Homo sapiens: one gene and its partners. The protein of the gene in region 2 purifies or fractionates together with the protein of the main gene of each other region. This does not show direct contact. Each region holds a gene or a part of one and is shown on either strand. Other genes may lie near its edges. The genes, in order: NAPG, PIPOX and ZNF217.

The links.
Region 1: the proteins of PIPOX (region 2) and NAPG purify together in Homo sapiens (affinity purification with mass spectrometry; 3 studies listed by BioGRID and IntAct, with this or other methods). This does not show direct contact.
Region 3: the proteins of PIPOX (region 2) and ZNF217 purify together in Homo sapiens (affinity purification with mass spectrometry; 3 studies listed by BioGRID and IntAct, with this or other methods). This does not show direct contact.

Annotation. Positions count from the first base shown.
Region 1 is NC_000018.10:10,528,992-10,536,100, reverse strand, and holds part of NAPG (gamma-soluble NSF attachment protein), read right to left. Parts: intron 7,101-7,109; coding exon of another isoform or gene 7,056-7,100; intron 5,332-7,055; coding exon 5,264-5,331; intron 3,391-5,263; coding exon 3,306-3,390; intron 2,580-3,305; exon of another isoform or gene 2,566-2,579; coding exon 2,548-2,565; intron 1,636-2,547; coding exon 1,605-1,635; intron 1-1,604. UniProt on the Homo sapiens protein: Required for vesicular transport between the endoplasmic reticulum and the Golgi apparatus.
Region 2 is NC_000017.11:29,038,892-29,046,156, forward strand, and holds the start of PIPOX (peroxisomal sarcosine oxidase), read left to right. Parts: upstream 1-4,249; 5' UTR 4,250-4,334; coding exon 4,335-4,448; intron 4,449-5,967; coding exon 5,968-6,116; intron 6,117-7,265. UniProt on the Homo sapiens protein: Metabolizes sarcosine and L-pipecolic acid.
Region 3 is NC_000020.11:53,576,801-53,583,909, forward strand, and holds part of ZNF217 (zinc finger protein 217), read right to left. Parts: exon of another isoform or gene 6,967-7,109; intron 6,369-6,966; 5' UTR 6,027-6,368; coding exon 4,661-6,026; intron 1,651-4,660; coding exon 1,534-1,650; intron 481-1,533; coding exon 1-480.

The DNA of each region.
Region 1 (7,109 bases), on a different chromosome or scaffold from region 2:
AGCTGTTGTAATATAAACTGAGGCTGTGAGAATTAGAGTGTTTGAGCATTTCTTAAACAGGCATGAAGTACACTAAGAATGTAACAGCCACCTGGGAGCTTCCTAATTCTCAGAGGAAAATGAGACATAAGAAGACCAGAGCAGATCCCCAGCTTCTTTGGCCGTAAGAGAAACTCTATGGTTTCAAAGGAACTGTGGTTAATAACCTAACTTGCGGCACCAAATACCAATTCAGTTGCATGTTTGGCCAGAAAAGCTTTATTTCAATGGATATATAATAGTTTATAATAAGGAAGCATCATAATTTATTTAAACACTTTCCTATTATTATTATTACTTTGAGACAGAGTCTCGCTCTGTTGCCCAGGCTGGAGTGCAATGGCACGATCTCGGCTCACTGCAAACTCTGCCTCCTGGGTTCAAGCAATTCTCCTGCCTCAGCCTCCCAAGTAGCTGGGATTACAGGCGCCCGCCACCATGCCCAGCTAATTTTTGTATTTTTAGAAGAGACAGGGTTTCACCATGTTGGCCAGGCTGGTCTCGAACTCCTGATCTCAGGTAATCCACCCACGTTGGCCTCCCAAAGTGCTGGGATTACAGGCATGAGCCACTACATCCAACCTCACTTTCCTATTATTCAAAATTTAGATAATTGGCATTTCTTCAAGAAACAACCTGATGCATAAATCTTTGATCTCTCTCTCTCGATGATAGACTCACAGAATTGAAATTCCTGGGTCAAAGACTATAAAATCTTTTAAACTAAGTATGTTAACAGCTATTACTAACATTCTTTAACTTTTCGGTATTTTTTATTGTCTACAATGAGCATGTGTTCACTAAAAAAATGAGTAAGTTCACATTATAAAAGTCATAGAAATTAAAAACAAAAGCTTTACTAAGGTAAAAGTTCTTAAAAACAAAGCTTTATAATAAATACTTGAAAGTAGCTTTTACCATTTTAGAAAAAAACATTTTTAAAAAAGAAAGACAAATACTTCATTTCAACTGCCAGCTGGCATACTTTGAAAGTCAGCATCATAAAGTAGTATGTTCTGTCTCACCACAGCAGGACATTAATTCCTGGCCTGCTTTTGAGGAGCAGAAGTACAAACAGTGGCACAGGTACATTAGTTGGAATATTCCATGCAGAATGAATTAAAGTAGCAAAAGCTTAAATCTGTGGTTGTTTCTGCTGCCAACTGTTATTCACATAAGTAAAAATCTCTTCTATAACCCATGTATGATAATTTTTTAATATTTATAAAATTTTACTACATTTAGATGTCCTTCTCAAAAGTAGAGAAACTTCCCATAGAGCTCTTTTTATAGCAATACACATCTATCCTGGTTATAGAGCTTAGAACATTAGTGTTCCCAGTTCACTCCAATACATTTTCTCTTAAATTTCACTTTTAACATTCCTTAAGACGTACAGAATGTATTCTATGGGTCCAATTAACGTTACCGTGGACAGAAAATCTTAACTTAGCACCTCTTGCCTTACAGTAAGGAAGCTTTTCAACTTCAACAAAAATTCTTGTTTAACACCTTGTAGTTAATTCATTTTACCTACACAACAATTGTGACATAACATTACTGACCTTCAACATCATTCCAGCTTGCTCATAAGCTCTGCAAAGAGAATATAATTTCTCTGATGAGATCTTAACGAAATAAGGGGTAGAAGAAACTTTCTGGTGAGGAACTACTGGTAAGGAAAGTGACTTCAATTACAATGGGCTCATGCACAACATATCACTTCAGGCTTATATTACCACACAATATAATTTTTTATTCTTTTTTTGTGGGGAATAATGGCTTAGAACATCAGACATTTGAGTTAAAGAGATTTTATTTTGCAGATGCAAAATTAAGTAAGGCTCAGTAAGGTTAAATTAATTTCCATCTGACAAACCTAAACCTAAGTTTTTTTGTTTGTTTGTTTGTTTTTGGGATGGAGCCTTGCTGTGTCGCCCAGGCTGGAGAGCAGAGGCACGATCTCAGCTCACTGCAACCTCCATCTCCCAGGTTCAAGCAAGTCTCCTGCCTCAGCCTCCCCAACAGCTGAGATTACAGGCACGTGCCACCACATCCAGTTAATTTTTGTATTTTTAGTAGAGACGAGGTTTTTCACCAAGTTGGCCAGGCTGGTCTTGAACTCCTGACCTCAAGTGATCCGCCTGCCTCGGCCAACAAATAACTACTCTCCACAAGGCAAGAGAAAGCTTCCTGCTTCATCTCCACAGGCACCATTAACTATCAAACAGAGGAAAAAAGAGATCCTAACTTATTTTTTTCCCATAGGCTACTGAACAAAATGCTCCTAATAAAATATTATGGCAAATTTAATTTAAACTCTTTACATCTTACAGTTAGGAGTAAGTCTTGGTTTTTAAGGTTTAGGTAAAAACTGAAGCAAAGAGAAATGATTATTATTTAAATCAATACAAAATTTATAATTTGGGAAAAAATTACCAACCTACAGAAAAACAGCAACATTTAAAACATAATTTGCAAATACATGAAAACATGAAGAATACTTACTTGGCAGCATGAAAAAGACTGAATGGAAGTAACGAAGTCAAAGTTAAGGAAAAAAGAAAAAAATCAATAGTTTCTATAGATCAACTATTTAAAGACAGTTAACTAAATCACTGACCCAGTTGGTTCCAAAAGACAAATCCTACAAACAGGTAAAAAAGAAGTAATTCAATACCTGTCAATATAGTTTAAAACTACATAATTCCCAAAACCACTAACAAAACACTGCACAGATTTTAAACTATTTCTATTACGCAATAATCTGAAGTTTTACTGAAGTACAAAGTTATTATGACTACAGTTTGCAAATAAGAGAAACATTTTTTATTGATAAGTTTGCAAACACCTCAAGAAAATGTACTGTTTTAAACTACTTATAATTTTTATTTCAAATACCTAAGGAAAACTGTATTTAAAAAAATTGATACAGTAGTTCACGTGTTTTCAATACCTGTGCTACTTCTTCATTCTTCAGCACATGTCTACAGATTTACTTTACTTCATCCCAAGTAAAACCATCATCAAGTAAAATCACAAACAATAGAAAGTAAGTATTGTAGCTCTGCGAACCAGTGTGGACCTTATAATCAAACTTCATTATAAACGCTCCTTCATAGTTTAAAAATACAGAATTTTTCTAATCATTTTCTAATTTAAAAACATTTTACTTCACAGGTAGTAAAGTAAATTTACAGCAAGAGAAAACAGCTTGTCAAAATCATCTAATTGTTTAATTTCTTTTTAAAAGTTGAAAAAGATACGCCCTATTATTTTCATGGGCAACAGCTTCCCTCAGGCAGGCATCTTTTGCTTGCTCAAACTGTTTGGCATTTTTAAAAGCAACAGCTGAAATAGAAAAAAAAATTGACTATTTCCATCATTAAAAACCTCAAATGAATCATTACTGAAATCTGCATTTTATATGAAGTATTATAAACATACTTACTTCAAATACTTAGGAAGTATCCTAAAACTATAAAATATTACTTTTTTCTAAAGCAATTTCCTTACAACTTTTCCAATTATTGGTAACTTACGAGTATTTTTAAAACTTTTTCTTTTTTAATTGTTGACTACTGGCAACAAATCAGTGTTTCTTCCACTCAAAATCAAGAAGTCTTTCTAACACCAACACTCCCCAATACTCCCCAGTAACCGGCAGATTCTTCAGTCACAAAAGACAGCACCTTACTTCACCAGTTTTACCTTTAAACGGTATTTTGGGTATAGGTCATTCGATTAGGTAGAAACTGAGGGCCAATAAGCACATTTAACAGTTTTTTATAATAAACCTTCCTTTTGGCACAATCTTTAAATGTCTAACAATGCATTTTTTTAAAAAAACAATCTTTTATACTGTTTACTATCTATGAAAAAGATGTCTCACTGTTCAAACAGCTAAAGCATACTGAAAGCTGTTTTAAAAGTGTAATCATCAAAACAAAACAGGAGTGCTTATAACATATGATCTTACAAATTTTGGAAAACTTATCAAGGGTTGCTTACAAAGAAGCAAAAAGCATAATGCTTTAAGAAAAGTGCTATTTGTTAAAAACACTCTTAAAATTCTCTTTAATAAAATGTGAAAACCAAATACTGAAGCTATTCCCCTCCCTGCTTTTCCATATGTTGCTTTTTAAAAAATTTATTCTGATTAAATAGGTTTTCCATAAGCCCTTAAAGAAAATAAACAAAGGATGCTTCAGGGGGAAAATTTCATCTAAAACATTTATTTTTGAATGTAATTCATGATCTCAGAGGGGCAGAAAACAAATCTGTGTTAAATTTCCCTCACAGAGGAAACTTGCAAAATGTTGTTCCCTTCTGCTACAGAAGCCTCCTTGCATGAGTAGTCCACAAAATTCATACAAAGTTTGAACTTTTAATAATTTTCAAGTATAAGATAAACAATTTGCATGATGCAAAAAAACAGAATTTACTCAGATTTAAATAAAAGTACTGAAGACTCATTTGCTGTTTAACCAAAAGCACTTGCCCCAGATGATCTCTATGCTAGGCTAACAAATGTGATAAGGGCTATCGCTGAAATACAACTGAAAATGTGTTCAAGGTACTTCAAAATTTTGTTATATTTATACTGCAAATTATCACAGGTATGCTTAAAGCTATCATTCTGTAATTCAGAATGCTACATTTTTAGTAAATTCCCTTTCTGTTGCATATTTTAGATTGTTTATATCTTATATAAAGATAAATTGATTAAAATATGTATATAGCTTAACACTTCATGAACACTGAACAGATACACTCAAAGTGAGGTTCATAAAAGACATAAAATACCAAGCAAACATATGATTTGCGTATCAGGTTAAGATGAGGCTAAGTTAACAAAAAATTTAACAAACTCCTAATTCAATAGAAAGTATAATAGAGAAATATGGCAAAACTCATGGATATGGTATTCAAATAACTGGAGTTAAAGAATATATAAGCAACGCTAAAAACCCACTACTGTGTATCACCAACCCCGCCCCATCCCTGCTGTCATAGACAGCAGGTACCAGGAACTCTGACTCAGCTCTCAACACATCTGAAAATAACAAGTGGAAAAAAACTCAAGGGCTTGCACAGTTGTTTTGTTTGTTTTTTAACTATTAAAGCCTTATAGAAAGCATATGAGTAAGTATTATGGTGAAATGAAGTTATCAGACTATTTTAAGATTACATACTGGAGCAACTGGACTATAGTCAAAAATACCTGCTTTTCCATATTCAGAAGCGGCACTGTCATAATCTGGCTTCCATTTTAAAAAACCAGTTTTCAGGCTAGAATGAAAAAAACACAGTTAACAGGAGTTACCAACCACATTTATAAGTCAGATCTCTGCTTGTAATGACCTTCTAGGTCTTTAAAAAAAAAAAAAAAAAGGAGAAACCATCAGGCACAAACTCTGTGTCACCCGCCTCCATCCAAACTTAGGCCTAACAAACACAACCTCACCTCTTTCACTCCCACTGTCACAGGTACGTGGTTTTCCTCCTAGAGGTTCTCAATTCATGGTCCCTGGACCAGCACCATCAGCACTAACTGGGAACTTACTAAAATCGTAAATTGTTGACCCCATCCCAAGCCTACAGCACCTCTGAGGTTTAACGAGCTCAAAGGTGCATTAAAGCTTTAGAACCTCTGAAGCACAGTATCGACAGCAGAGGGATTCATGAAACTGACGCACAGACAAGAGTCTAGAGACATAAATGGAGGCATCATAAGCATATGTCAAGAGCATAGATGAGATCAGATCCCCTAGTGAGACTGCAGAGAGAGAACAGAAAGACTAAGGAATACAATCATTCAGTGAAACAACAGAGGAAGTAGGCAAAAAAAAAAAAAAAAAAAAAAAAAAAAAGTGAAAACTCGCCACCCATAAACAAGAAGGATAATCAGAAAGGGAAGGATATTACAAAAGCCAAGAGAAACTGCTTTCTAGGATCACTACTGGCTTCTTGGATGCCAAACCAAAGGACAATCAATTTTGAATCCTTAACTTACTTGCCTTTTCCTCAATATTTATTTTCTTATTTTAAAATAATTTCAGACTTAGTTTAAACTAATTCAGTAACTGTCAAATTTGGGTGTGCATAGAAATTGCCCAAACCATCGTAAATTCTAAATGTCATTCAATTAGTGAAGGCCTGCTTGCACAGAACACTGCTTGCTTCAAATGACTCAGGGGAGTATCTTAACTGAAAGATGAGGCATCTGTATGAGCACTCAGAAGTACAGCCTTCATTATGTGACAGCCATGGGAACTGCCACAAAGTCATAGCTTCTTTTTTTTTCTTGAGATAGGGTCTCGCTCTGTCACCCAGGCTGGAGTGCAGTGGTATTATCTCGGCTCACTGCAACTTCCGCCTCCCAGGTTCAAGTGACTCTCGTGCCTCAGCCTCCTCAGTAGCCGGGATTACAGGCTTGTGCCACCACACTCAGCTAATTTTTGTATTTTTAGTAGAGAAGAGGTTTCGCCATGTTGGCCAGGTGGTCTCGAACTCCTGGCCTCAAGTGATCCGCCCACCTTGGCCTCCCAAAGAGCTAGAATTACCGGCATGAGCCACTGTACCCAGCCAGCTACAGTAACATTTTTTGCCAATTAAATTTATTCAACATATTTAGCATCTAAAACTTGTTTGTGTATATAGTGTTACAAGATTCAAATTAAAATAAGCAATTTTTCAAGCTTACCAAGAATTTCACTGTTCAGAAAAATAATATCCTTAAATTGTGGTGTGTCTACTCAAATCTACAAAATTGAGGAAATATGCAATATGCAAAATGCTAACCCTCTGTTCCTATCCCATAACAAACATTACATTCTGTATATTAACATAATTTTTTTAATCCCACTAAAAACAAGATACAATCACTCCGTCACCTAATGTGCTATACACGGAAAGACCCAGAGAGTTTAAAACTGGGCAAACCATCCCAAGTCACATGAACACCACTAATAAGGAAGAAAGATATACAGCTAATTTGGGTTTAGCAGCCATACCTGTTAGTCCTTTTGACCTTTTTCTCCAAAGAATCAATAAGGAAACTGACCAAT
Region 2 (7,265 bases):
GTTCTGCTTGCCTTTCTCAGGGTTATCTCATACACACATTTCTGCATAGCAGAGTCCAGCTTGTTATTTGGAATAGCTACGTAGTATTCCATTGTGCCAGCGAGCCAGAGCTTGTTCAGCCATTCCTTGTGGTTGAGTTATTTCCCATTTTTTTATATTGTAAAAGCACAGATATCAATATCTTCATACCTTTGTCTCCCCTTGGGATATGGTTCCCCAGGTTGAATTTCTAGGTCAGAAGGTTTGAGCTGTTTTACCCGGATTGCTGTGTATTGCCTCAGCCACCTCCAGGAGATCCTGACAACCCAAATTGCCACCCTCCTCTATCTCTGTCCCCACAGCACTGACAACATAAGAGATTGTCATTTTTATTTATTTTTGCTAATTTAATAGGCACATAATAGTACCTTGAAGTTATTTAATTCCCATTTCTTTCATTGCTAGTGAGACTGGGCACACTTCCATGTGAGGATTTATTGTCTGCTTTTCCTTGTACGTAAACTGTTCATCTCCTCTGACATCTTATCAAGAGAAATCTGGGGGCTGATCTTATATATTTATATCAAGCCTTTACATACTCAGATAGTACATTTTTCTCGGTTATGTCAGCCATTTTTTATTCTGGGGAGCTGTCCAGTTGTGATGTGGATGCTGGCCTGTTCCGGGGGGTGGGAGTGGCATATGGAGTTGTGAGGATTTCTGGACTCTTGAAATATACATACATATATATATATATATATATATATATATATATATATATATATTCTGGGGTTTTTTTTTTTTAGAAGAAAAAAAAGCCAAGCATGGTAGGTTTTGCTTGTAACCTAGCACTTTTTTTTTTTTTTTTTTTTTTTTTAGGCAGGCTTGCTCTGTCGCCCAGGCTGGAGTACAGTGGCACAATCTCGGTTCACTGCAACCTCCGCCTCCCGGGTTCAAGGGATTGTCTTGCCTCAGCCACCTGAGTAGGTGGGATTACAGGCCTGCACTACCACACCCAGCCAATTTTTGTATTTTTAAGTAGAGACAGGGTTTCGCCATGTTGGCCAGGATGGTCTTGAACTCCTTGCCTCTAAAGATCCTCCCACCTCGACCTCCCAAAGTGATAAGATAACAGGCGTGAGCCATCGCACCCAGCCAGTCCCAGCACTTTGAGAGGCCTACGTGGGCAGATTGCTTGAGCCCAGGAGTTTGAGACCAGCCTGGGCAGCATGGCAAAACTCTTGTCTCTACAAAAAATAAGCTGGGCGTGGTAGTGCACTCCTGTGGTCCCAGCTACTCAGGGGGCTGAGGTGGGAGGATCAGCAGAGCCTGGGAATTTGAGACTGCAGTGAGCTATGATCACACCACTGCACTCCAGCCTGGGTGACAGACTGAAATCCTGTAACAGGAAAAAAAAAAAAAAGATAAAGAAAAATCCAGTCCGATGGCACCTCCTCTCTGGGCTCCTGTTTTCCTAAGAACAAAAGGGCTAGGCTGAGAGGACAGCCAGTTGCCAAGATCAGTCTGGGGGATTACTTGTGGAATGAGAAGCATTGCTGGCGGCCTTGGCAGGCCACTGTAAGGAGGCAGGGCAGCTCCCTGTAGTCATGTGGGTTTCCTGGACCATTATTTTCTCCCACTCATTGTGGGAGAAATAGCAAAATATTGAAATCGGAATCATCATTACAAGTTCTGACTCATCCTCAGTAAAGCACAGTGGTTAAAGGAACGGATTCTGGGGCAGACAGACCTAGGTTCACAGTTCAGTGTCTTTCTTTTCTTTCTTTCTTTTTTTTTTTTTTTTTTCCATAGAGCTGGAATCTTGCTCCATTGCCCAGGCTGGAGTACAATGGTGTGATTATAGCTCACTGCAGCCTCAAACTCCTGGGCTCAAGTGACCCTCCTGCCTCAGCCTCCCAAGTAAGTAAGACTACAGGCATGCACCACCATCCCTGGCTAATTTTTAACATTTTTTGTAGAGATGCGGTCTTGCTATGTTGCCCAGACTGGTCTCAAACTTCTGGCCTCAAGTGATTCTCCCGCCTCGGCCTCTCAAAGTGTTGGGATTACAGACGTGAGCCACTGTGCCCAGCCTCAGTGTCTTTGTATACCAGGGGTGTTGCTTTGGGTAAGATAGAATCTCTCTAAGCCTTCACGTCTTCAGCCATTAAGTAATATTTTGGTTATGGCTGTGTAAAAAACCTCCCCAAAATGTTGTGGCTGAAAACAACAACCATTTTATTCTGTTTCATGGTTTTGTGGATCAGGAATGAAGCTTGACTGGGTGATTCTTCTGCACTATGCAGCATCAATTGGGTCACTTGGTACTATTTGGCTGGTGCTAGGCTGGGCTGGAGGAACCAAGATGACTTCACTTTTCTTTGAGACAAGGTCTTGCTATGTTGCACAGGTTTGTCTGGAACTCCTGGCCTCAAGCGATCCTTCCTGACTCAGCCTCCCAAACCAAGATAACTTCATTCTTATATAGAGTTCTCCACCTGGTCCCAGGTCCTCTCCATGTGAACTCTCCCATAGGGTGCCTGCACTTCTAACATGGTGGCTCAGGGCTCAGAGAGTAAGGGCTCCTTGGCCAGGTGCGGTGGCTCATGCCTGTAACCCCAGCACTTTGGGAGGCCGAGGTGGTCGGATCATGAGGTCAGGAGTTCGAGACCAGCCTGGCCAATATGGTGAAACCCCGTCTCTACTAAAAATATGAAAAATTAGCTGGGTGTAGTGGCGCTCGCCTGTAGGCCCAGCTACTCGGGAAGCTGAGGCAGAAGAATCGCTTGAACCCACGAGTCAGAGGTTGCAGTGAGCCAAGATAGTGCCACTGCTCTCCTGCCTGGATGACAAAACGAGACTCCCTCTCAAAAAAAAAAAAAAAGTAAGGGCTCCAACATAAGAAGAGGAAGCTGCCAGTCTCTTTAGGGCTGTGCCAGAAAGTGTCATGGTATCACTTTTGCCATATTTTATGGGTCAAGCAGTCACAGAGTCTGTGATAGAAGGAGTGAAAAAGAATTTGGGGCCATCCTTAATCTGCCAAAAGTAGGCATAAAAATACTCCTAAGCCAGGTGCAGTGTCTCACACCTGTAATCCAAGCTTTTGGGAGGATGAGGTGGGAGGATTGTATGAGTCCAGGAGTTCGAGACCAGCCTGAGCAACACAGTGAGCCCTCGTCTCTACAAAAAATAAACAAAATTAGCTGAGCATGGTGGCATGCGTTTGTAGTTTCAGCTACTCGGGCGGCTGAGGTAGGAGGACCCCTTGAGCCCAGGAAGTGGAGGCTACAGTGAGCCGAGTTCGTGCCACTGCACTCCAGCCTGCGTGACAGTGAGATCCCAGAGATCCTCTCAAAAACCAAAACTTCAAAAACAAAAACCCGCAGAAACTCCTAGGGCTATGAGGAGTAAATGAGATAACTCATGCAGAGGCAAATTTACCATGAAGCAAATGAAACTTCAACCATGGGGGTCCTTAATTGAACAGTTTCTTCCACATCCGGGCATCTAATTTTGTATTAATAATTCTCCTTTTTTCTTTTTCTCAAAGAGTACCCTCGAACTGTATGACAATCAAGCCCTACCCAAATGCCAGTATCAGTACTTACTAAGCATACTGCCTGGGACAGAGAGATGCTCAACACGGGGCCCCTCCAGGCACTGGGCTGGCCTGGTCCCCTCTCTGTGGCTGAGGAGAGGGCTCCTCCTCTCACTCTGCCCTTTCTGTCTTTTCAGGATCATTTCTTCTTTCTTCAAAATGAAAGTAAAACATGCTGGGAATAATTTCATAATTACAAAACTGCCCTCCCAATTGGCCCCTGCCTCTACCCCCTGACCTCACCACCCACCAGGGAGGTGGGTCTTATTCTGGGCATCGTGCCAAGTTCTTAGCGGGGCCCTCTAGAATCTCTAAAGCAAATCAGGCTGAAGAGGGGAAAACCAGCAGGGGGAGGCAGCATTCCCGGTGCCCAGTATGGTCTAGGAGGCATTGAAATTCCAGGGCCGAAGTCCTGAGACAAAGATCATAATGAGACAGGAAGGTGGCAAAGGAAGGAGCCCATTTGCATGACAATAATTGAGCCAAGAATAGAAAGCCACAGGGATGCAAGGGTGAGGCTGGCGGCTGAGCTGGGCTAAACCTCACAAATCAGACTACCCAGCTCTGCTCCGCAGGGGAAGGGAGACTGAGCCCTGGGCCAGGCTTGGCAGAGAGGGAAGCGGGAGGACACGACCCCAGGGCATTGTGGGAACACTGGCCAGGCTGGACTTTGCCTTCCTCCTCGTCCTTTAGCCGGGAGCCTGTCTTTGCTTGCCTTTGCCTTTGAGGCTCTGTGGCTGTGGGGCTGAGTGGCATCATGGCGGCTCAGAAAGATCTCTGGGACGCCATTGTGATTGGGGCGGGGATCCAGGGCTGCTTCACTGCATACCACCTGGCCAAACACAGGAAGAGGATCCTCCTGCTGGAGCAGGTACTGTGTCCCTTCTGCACCCCCAGCTGTAAGGACTGTCCTACCCTCCTCCCCTGCAGAAGGGTTTTCAGAGCCAGCAGGCTACAGGGCAAGGCCAAAGGGACTGAATCATCAAAAATTCTGTGTAATTTGTATCTTAGCTGCCTAGTGTGTTTCATGGCAATTCAAAGAAGTTTCACATCCCTCATACCCACATTGGGTTTCTAGGCACATTTCCTCTTTCTACTGCTTCCCAGTTCCTGCCCTTGACCAAGCGTCCTAGGCCCTGTTCTCTTCCTTCTCACTACTCTTTCCCTTCTGTGCCCAAATGGTTGATCCCCACCCCAGAAAAATAATTGGTTCTGCTCTAGGTAACCTAAAGTAAAGATAATTTTGCCTAGAGGCAAAGGTTGATTTATCAGCCTAAGAGGTAGGATTCTGTCTTGCATATTCCTGGCCTCTCACACCAGAACCCAGCAGAAGCTTCTGTTTTTTTTTTTTATTTTTTATTTTTTGCCACCTCCAGATAATAGCAGCCTCCTTGTTTGACACATGATAAGTGAGACTGAGGCCTTATTTTTCCTGCTACGCAGTGCAGTCTGCAGTGACCACTGCATATGTGGGTGGGCCCTGTGTGTCTGCAGGGTCCTTCGAGGACAGGGCCACCCAGCTATCCACTGCAGTGGACTCTCCCTTTCCATTCTGCCTGCAGCTACCCAGGCTGGCTATGGTTTGCTCTTCTTGGTAATGAGCCAGAGTAGTTAGAAACCTTCTTCATTTCTCTATCAGTTTTCTCAAAGCCCAAGGGATTCCTGGTTCATCCTCTCAGGAAACTCATTGTTGCTGAATCCTGAGGTGGTTCTCTTACCCTGAGTGATCTGTAGCCACAGAGAAATAAAGTCAGCATCAGTTTCCTTGTTCATAAAATGAAGGGGCTGGAGTAGTTGAACTGGAAGGTTTTTTCTAATTTTGCTTCTTTGTGAATCTAAGTGAGGTGAGATTGCAGCAGGATGGTTGAAGACTAGCTAACAAAAGAACTTCTGGATGTGAACAACGTTAGCAAAAAGGAAGCCTAAGTTAGTGCTATTGAAGAACTTCTATCTTGATTGCCAAGTCAGTAAATTGGTCATAAAGAGAGAATTTGGAAAGATTGTGTGAATTTTTTTTTGTGGGGGGACAGGATCTCACTCTATTGCACGGGCTGGAGTGCAGTGGTACTATCATAGTTCACTACAGCCTCAAACTCCTGGGCTCAAACAGTCCTCCTACCTCAGCCTTCCAAGTAGCTGGGACTACAAGTGCCACCACACCTGATAGTTTTTAAATTTTTGAGAAGACTGGGTCTTGCTATATTGCCTAAGCTGGTCTTGAATTCCTGGGCTCAAATTATCTTCCTGTGCATAATCCTTCCCCAGATTGTGTGGAAATATTTGAAGGATAAATGGCTCCTGGTTGACAGCACATGCTGATATGGCTCTTAACAGGGGATGCAGTGTGAGGGGTAATGGCTTCCATCATCTCTCTTGTTTTCCACTTCCAGTTCTTTCTACCACACTCCCGAGGAAGCTCCCATGGACAAAGCCGGATAATCCGAAAGGCGTACCTGGAAGACTTTTACACCCGGATGATGCATGAGTGCTATCAGATATGGGCCCAGCTGGAGCACGAGGCTGGAACCCAATTGCACAGGTGGGCTGTGGGAGGAATTCCTTGAATCGTGGGGCTCTGCACCTGCAGGTACTTTTAGTGTGTGAAGTGGCAGCGCCATGGAACATTTGGAATGCAATGGGAGGGACACAAGGCCTCAAGAAGTACCAGATGCATGGAAGAGTTCTGCTGTCATGGTGGTCACCCCACAGGTCCAGCTGACTCTGGCCAGGCTCTGCGTTGCAGGACTGGGTTCAGACCATGTGTCCAAGGCTAGCAGAAGCAGTACTGGAAAGCCTGCTGGCAAGGCACCGTGTGGCAGATGCCCAGAGTGGACAGGAGTCTGCTGGAGTGTGTATTTTCAACTCTGTGGAGGCCTCTGCAACTCTTTTAGGGCAGGGGTTGAGATAGAGGAGGAGGCTGCTTTCAGGAGGATTCTTTTTTTTTTTTTTTTTTTTTTTTTTTTGACAGAGTCTCGCTTTTTTGTCAGGCTGGAGTGTAGTGGCGCCATCTTGGCTCACTGCAACCTCCACCTCCCGGGTTCAAGTGATTCTTCTGCTTCAGCCTCCCGGGCAGCTGGGACTACAGGTGCGCACCACCACACCCAGCTAATTTTTGTATTTTTAGTAGAGACAGGGTTTCACCATGTTGGCCAGGATGGTCTTGATCTCTCGACCTCATGATCTGCCCTTCTCGGCCCCCCTAAGTACTGGGATTACAGGTGTGAGCCACCGTGCCTGGCCCAGGATTCTTTATAGTCAAATCAACATCCTAACTTTTCCTGAGGGGTCCTCACCCCCTTTAGCAGCCCTATAAACCCATTTTGTTCTCTCTGAGTACCTTTTCCTGTAGGAACAAAATGGGGACGTTCCCCAGGCTGGATTGCTTGCCAGGGAGTGAGCCTCCACGTCTTTCTCTGCTGCCTTCATGGCTCTCTCCAACCCTTGACCTTTCAAACACTCATGGGAAAGAAAGCCAATAATCTGTGATGCAATGGGAACTTTAACCATCCCACCTCCCTCCCACCTCCTCTGTGACTCTTAACTGAACTTCCTACAAACCCTGGCTCTACCTGATAGGGTGGTGGTTATTTTAATGGCCAGGAACCAAGAGGTTAGTGTTCTGTTGCAAAAATACCATTAACTTAAGAACAAAGTGAAATCCATTATGCAAATCAGCCAGGGCAGCTAA
Region 3 (7,109 bases), on a different chromosome or scaffold from region 2:
TACTGCCATCCGGAGGAGGAGTAACATCCGCCTTGGTTCTACAGATGAGGTTATTTGCCTGAGTTTCAACTGCTGATCTCTTTTTTAACAGGTCCAGGTAAGCAGGGGTAGGGTTTTTATTCACTTTATCAGCACTGTCATCAGCTGCATTTTTATGGAAATCCTGAGTATCTTTGTGTGCTGGTGAGAGGACAGCGCTGCCCAGAACATTCTGAAAAACAGAAGGCATCTCCTTAAGCTGCTTTGCAGGTGGACTGCCTGTAACATCTTTGGCACCATCAAAAAATCTTTTCAAATTTTTGGTTTGCGCACTGTCAGCGGTTAATAGTGCATCTTCAGTGTCCTGATTTTTACCATCGTTCTTGACTTCAGCAGCAACATCGGTTTGTTTTTCCTTGTGATGTCTCTCCAAGTGATACCTCAGAGATGTCTTCTGGGCTGCAGCATATTCACAAAATTCACATTTGTATGGTTTTTCACCTAAGGCAAGAAATGGCACTTTATTATAGAAGTGTATGAAAAGCACTGAAATAGATCAAATATCTATTTATTAAGAAAACAGGCTTCTTTCCTCCTTTTGCTTTCTCGATCTACTATCACATAGGATTTCTCATCAGTTCTTTATCATCCTTACTGTAATGAATATTTGAAATTATGAATGCCTATCTTCAATAGAAAAATTAACAGCAACACTTCTAACTTATTTAATCTTCCTAACAGCCCTAGGGAAATATGTATTATTCTACTTTTACAGCAAAGAAAACTAAAAGCACAAAAAGGTTAAATAACTTGCCCAAGGGTGCACAGATAGTAAGTGGAAGAGATGAAATTTCAAATCTACGCAGCCTCCTACATCATGATGTCATAGCTCCTTTCACAATCTCAAGACTACTAAATAGATTCTCATTTCATTCTCAATCATAAAGACATAAGATGCAGCATTTTAAAATACTGTAGCTTTTAATAAGATAAGAGTCAGGACATAGCAGTCATAAACTAAACAAATGAACTTTGTCCGGGCGCGGTGGCTCACGCCTGTAATCCCAGCACTATGGGAGGCCAACACTATGGGAGGCCAAGGTGAGCGGATCACTTGAGGTCAGGAGTTCGAAACCAGCCTGGCCAGCATGGTGAAACCCCATCTCTACTAAAAATACAGAAATTAGCCGGGTGTGGTGGCAGGTACCTGTAATCCCAACTACTGGGGAGGCTGAGGCAGGAGTATTGCTTGAACCAGGGAGGTGGAGGCTGCAGTGAGCCGAAATTGCACCACTGCACTCCAGCCGAGGTGACAGAGCAAGACTCCGTCTCAAAAAACAAAAAAGAAAGAAAAGAAATGAACTGCAAATAAGAACAATGGCTCAAGTTACAATGGCACTAAAAGAATAAAAATAACCACTGCAATCAACATGCTACATATTTATCCTTAAGCTAGTCCAAGGATCTGGCAGAGTATCTGAACAACAACAACAAAAAAATTAGATAACTACATAATTTAACTAATGCATGGTTAAAAAAATAAAAGTTCTTTACCTGTATGCGTTCTGAGATGAATATTGAGGTAATAATTTGAACGGAAAAACTTTCCACAATAACTACACTCTCTTGAAGATGTAAGATGTTTTATTTTTCCTCCATCATCATTTTTATCTTAAAGGAAAAACAAAAATATTTATATAAGAAGGTAGCTGAAGTACCTGAATAAGGCATGCTGACTTAAATATTCTTGACATAAACATTTTTGGAAAGCATGAAAAAATTCTTTTATATAACATCGGGTTAGAACAAAACGGCTAGACACACACCAAATGCTGTTGGAGGTTGTTTGAAGTTTTAGAGTGTTATAACATGATTTTGTTTTGTTTTTTTCTGGGTACAGCAGAGTACACTATTAAACATTCAGTTCTTCGTTTGCCTTAATCACAAGAAAGATCATTTCATAGACTGAATTGCCCGGGCAGCTTCCGGTTCTCAGTGTCTCTGAGCAGGCAGGATCTGGCAAACTGAAGGTGGACATACATACTGGCGGGAAAAATTATCTTCTTCAGAATAATTTAGAAAAATGAGCCAATTACAAACCGTCAACTTCCCAACCACCAGGGGAAAAATAAGCCGTTTAAGGTTAGGATTAAACAACTGACCACTAGAGGGCAGCAAGCACAACTTAATCTTCAACAGAAAAGAAAGTCTGGCATTGGGCAAGCACCTAGGAAAGTCTGTCAAAATTTAGCAAAGTTTTGGAAAGCAGGCTGTATTGTCCACAAACACTCATGTGGGCGAAAGAGATCTGACAAATGAAAACCTGTCCCCAAATGACAGTGTTTGGCTTTAGTTTCTGCAGGACAATAGGACAATGTGTCTCACGTGCATCAGGAGAAGTTAGAGTCCACTGGAAGGAGGACAGAACTTCAAACACACACCAGCCCTCCAAAAGACAATCAGAGGTGCTGCCGTTAAAATACCACCCCCAAAACACATGAATGTTTAAGTTTTAAATAAATGTCCCCTCACTGTAGATCATATCACTATCCACCTGTAAGACAGACACCCTTGATGATCTATATAGTGTCTAAAGAAAGAAAAAAAAATTTACTTGATCTTCTTAAGTCTTAAAAAAGCCAGGATGATAGTACAATATGATAAATCTAGACTACTAAGATAATATAAGTTTAGGAAAATCAATTCCCCAAATACAGAATGGCCAGCTTTTTTTTCTTACAATCATACCCAAACTAGCTGGGTTTATAACTGGGCGTTGTTGCAATTTCCGACTCCCAACTATGTGTCAGGATTTATGGTATGTTGCGTCATATCCAAAAAGCTATGAAATGCCTTTTCTTTAGAACAAAGGACATGACATTTCCACATCTACCTGGTTCCTGCTCTTTCAAGCATCACCTCTGACTTTACAGTTATATTTTTTAAAGGACTGTGATCTTTTTACAAATAGGCTGTTGAAATTGTCCTTGGGAGGTGGAAGACAGGGGTCAATGAACCATTTTGCAAACAGGGAAATAGTAGCAAAGAAAGGTTAAGCAACTCATAATTGGTCACAAAACAACGCAGTGGTAGAACCAGAACTCAACGCCAAGCTGGGGTGCTCCCACCCACAGCCAGGCATTCTGTCCTGCCTGATGATCTAGCCCATGTTTTCCACACCACCTACCGGTAACTGGCCTTTTCATTTCTTTCAGGGAACTGGGGCATCTCACAGGGCCCCTGCAACAGTACCGGCACTAGCAGAAACCACTTAGCTAACTGGAGTCTGTGTTTAAAGCCTCTTTTTATGATGCCATTAAGACATTAGATTTGTAGTATGCTAAGTGCTGGGTTTCCTGTGTCCCAGGAAACTCAAAAACATTCTAAAGATTTGATATACAGACTACAGTTCTCACGTCAATCACATGATCAGAAAAGGAACTGGCACTGGCTGAAGAGCAGGTGAAGGAAGAGTCCAATCAATCGTGTGGGCAAATTCATCGTGGGTCTCATACACCCAGTTTTCCGAAGAATTCAAGCACACAATCAAGTGACACTGAGAGGAGGAGGCACTTGTTTTAACCGAGGACCACTTTGACAGATGCTTCCCTAAGACCGATTCATGTTCCCATCATTCGCTTGTCAATTACGGCCTGCCCATCAGGGTCTTTTCAACTGTTTTAAGCAGCAAGATCCTCTATTCAAACAAAATACTAAACTCTGATAGGAGAAGCTCTGGCTACAGTGAGGATGGGCGCAACTCCAAACACAGGTGGAATCCTTTGCCCTAGATAACGCCCACCAGGGCTCAGGAATATTATGTGAGCATGCCTTCAGTGATCACCTTCTCTTTCTATAAATGCCACTAGTACACTGAAAATTCTGCTGAGCAAATGAGCCTTCTTAAAAATGTCTTCAGTGTGCTCACATTCCTTGTATTTTATGACAAATCATTTGGGTTCCTGAGGTACCTATAAATGGATACTAGCTTGCCAGACAGAAAGGACAAGGTTTTGGACAGCACCAAACGGCTGCCCAAATAATATTCCTGGCTCTAGTTGATCATCACTCCCAGTACCTTTTATGGCCACTAGAAATTCACTACAGAAAAAGATCAGGAACGCCAGAAAAACTTAAGTGAAGGCTAGGGTCTCTCAATGCTCAAACTATTGACATTTGGGACCAGATAATTCTTTGATGATGGGGCTGTCCTGTGCACTGTACCATGCTGAGCAGTGTCCCTGGCCTCTGCCCACTGGATGCCAGCAGGCACACCCACACACACAGTATGACAACCAAAATGCCTCCAGACATTGCCAGATACTGATTGGGAACAAAATCGCCCCAGTTAAGAAGCAGTGCATTTGGGCTGGATGCACAAGTTATTTTTTTTTTAAAGTGTGTTTTGTGAGCAAAACGATACACGTTTAAAAAATATATATATATTTTCAGAACAAGGAGACCTCTTAACTCAACCCTGTTATTACAGAAATGAGAAAATTAAGGCCCTGAGAGGTTAAATGACTTACACAGAGTGATACCAAAAAGAGCCTGGACTTGACTCTGGCTCTCCAAACCCCATTCCTGGCCAGCGTTGTCTGGAGATGGGAATAGAGAGGGGGAGACGGGGAGACAGACAGACACAGGCGGAACAGCACGGGACGGAGACAGGGCAGCTTACCCAGATGGATTCCTTCGGGAAGCCCATCCTCAGATCCGTCTTCAGAACCACCTTCCCCTCGATCCACGGCTCCATTTTCATCCAGAGGGGCGGCGAGGTCAGGAGAACACGTCCCCGGCTGCCTCCCGTCCACAGACATGGTGGGCGACTCCGCGCCGGCCCTCCGGTCCTTCTTGTGGACCCTGGAGTGCAAGACCAGCTGGTGGTAGGTTCTGAAAGCTTTGCCGCACTCGGAGCAGTGAGTGGGCTTCTCCTTGCTACTGGGTAACTTGGGATCCGCGTCCACGGAGGGCGCTTCGCCGTGGGAGTGTTTGCACTTCTCTTTCTCTTGCGAGAGGCCTGCACAACTGCCCTTATTTGTTTCTCCAAGCTCCTTCTCGGAACTCGAATCGTCGTTGTCGGTGCTCCCTTCTTGCCCCGATTCCTTCACTTCTTGGCAAATGGCAACTTTTCCTTTGGTAGCCAGCTGCCAAGCCTGGAAGGTGGTGAACGGATCGAGCTGAGGGATGCATCTGACAGGCTTCTTCCCCGTTTCAGGGTGAGATTTTGGTCTCAAGTTGAACAACTGCAGGAAGTCCTCCCTCGAGGACGGCATTCCTCCTTGTGGAGAGTCTGTCTGCGCGCTGCTGGTACCGAAAGCAGTTTTTTTGGTGTGCACCTTGCGGTGCTCAATTAGACTTTCTTTATTTGGAAATAGGAAGCCACAAACCATGCAGATTTTGTAAGGAGAGGAGATGCTCTCGGCCGCGTGCACCTGGACGACCTCGTTGATCGTTGCTGGACTACTCTCCAAGCCTTGCTGCAGTTTGCTTCTGGCCCCCGATTTGCCATTATGTGTCCGCATGTGATTTTTAAGAAACCAAGGCTCCTTGAATCTTCTTCCGCACATGTTACACCCGTAAGTGAAAGAATCTTTGTGTGTTCTCATGTGGATCTCAACATCAAAAGCGACTCTAAATGTCTGCCCACATACCTCACAGCTAAATTCATTTTCCTTGCAATTCTTTTCCTTGGGAGGTTCTGTTCGCACTTGACTTTTATCAAGCGGACTGAGATACTCTGCTTCAACCCGAAGAACTGCTGGTTCACAGAGGGTAGGCCGGTGTTGCATTAAGACATGTTTATTAAGGTCTTCTGAATGTGTGAAGGTCTGGCTGCAGAACATGCAATCCAAGGGCATATACCCCTCGATTTGGATGACATTTTTTTCTTGTGTAGCTCGGAATGGAACAACAGCGGTCCCTTTCATTGACAAGGCATCCTCCATCTCCATCGGACTGCCAAGAGAGCTGCCAATCACTTCTGGCCCATCCATGTACATTAAGAGGGATTGAGTTGGCATGTTTCCTGTCACTTTCGATTGCATATAATCTCAAAGTTCCGTTGGGCAATTTCTGGAGTTGGAATAAGGCCACTTGTAAGACTTGTCACTCACCCCTCTAACAGCCCTGGGTTCCAAAAACCAGAGCAAATATTTATTATAAAAGTTCAAAAGAAAGTGTATAGTCCTCTAACTTCTTCGAACTTTTAGGAAGCTCAGTGATGGTGTCACTGGTTCTTTCCACAAACAAGGCATACAGGGTTCCCAATGCCTCGATTCAAATATGAATCAGCACAAAGCATTAGTTCTCTTTGTCTCCATTGAATGAGTGTTTCAATTGAGCAAGAAGTCAATCCCAGCAACCTGGAGACAAGGGATTTCCAAACCCTAGAGGAAAAAAAACAGAAACGGTTAGCTACACTCAGAGCGAAGAGAAGGCTGGTGTGGGTGAGTCATACGGTCTTTTCCACGCAGCAGAGAAGGTACCTAATTCAATTGCTTCACTTTTAACTAATATATAGGGCATCCTGTTAAACGTGCTTGTTAATTAAATCATTGGCATTTTATCCAGTCAGTACACTTATTAAATCAGAATTTCATCCAGTTAAAATCCAGTTTAAATCAGTGCTTTACCGACTTAAATCTAAAATGTCAAGTTTTAGGTCAGAAATTGTTAAATTCAGCTGAATACATTTTAAATGCCACTAAAATGCACATGTGGATGCCATCAACAGCCTCCCTAAATCTAAAGACTATAAGAACTGTGAAAATTAAGATGAAAAAATTAAAACACTTTAGTAAACTATTTTAAATCCAGTGTATACAAAACAATTTAAAATTTGTTTCATATACAAACAAATCTGCATCCAAGAAATCTAAGTGCCCAAACACCCCCTTAGAGATTTTGCACATACAGAGGTCAACAAAATGAGCACAGAAATACAGAAACTTTTCCTAAAATCCCCATTCAAGAAATACTTAACACCTCAGAATGGTCACTCATCTTGGCCAGGGGAACCCTGATATATTTTGGTTCACTGGATATTCGAAACCTCAATCCACTGTTCAAATCCCAGCTTGCTTTCAACGACTTTCTGCCTTCAACAAGCACTGGGTGGGGCTTCCTAG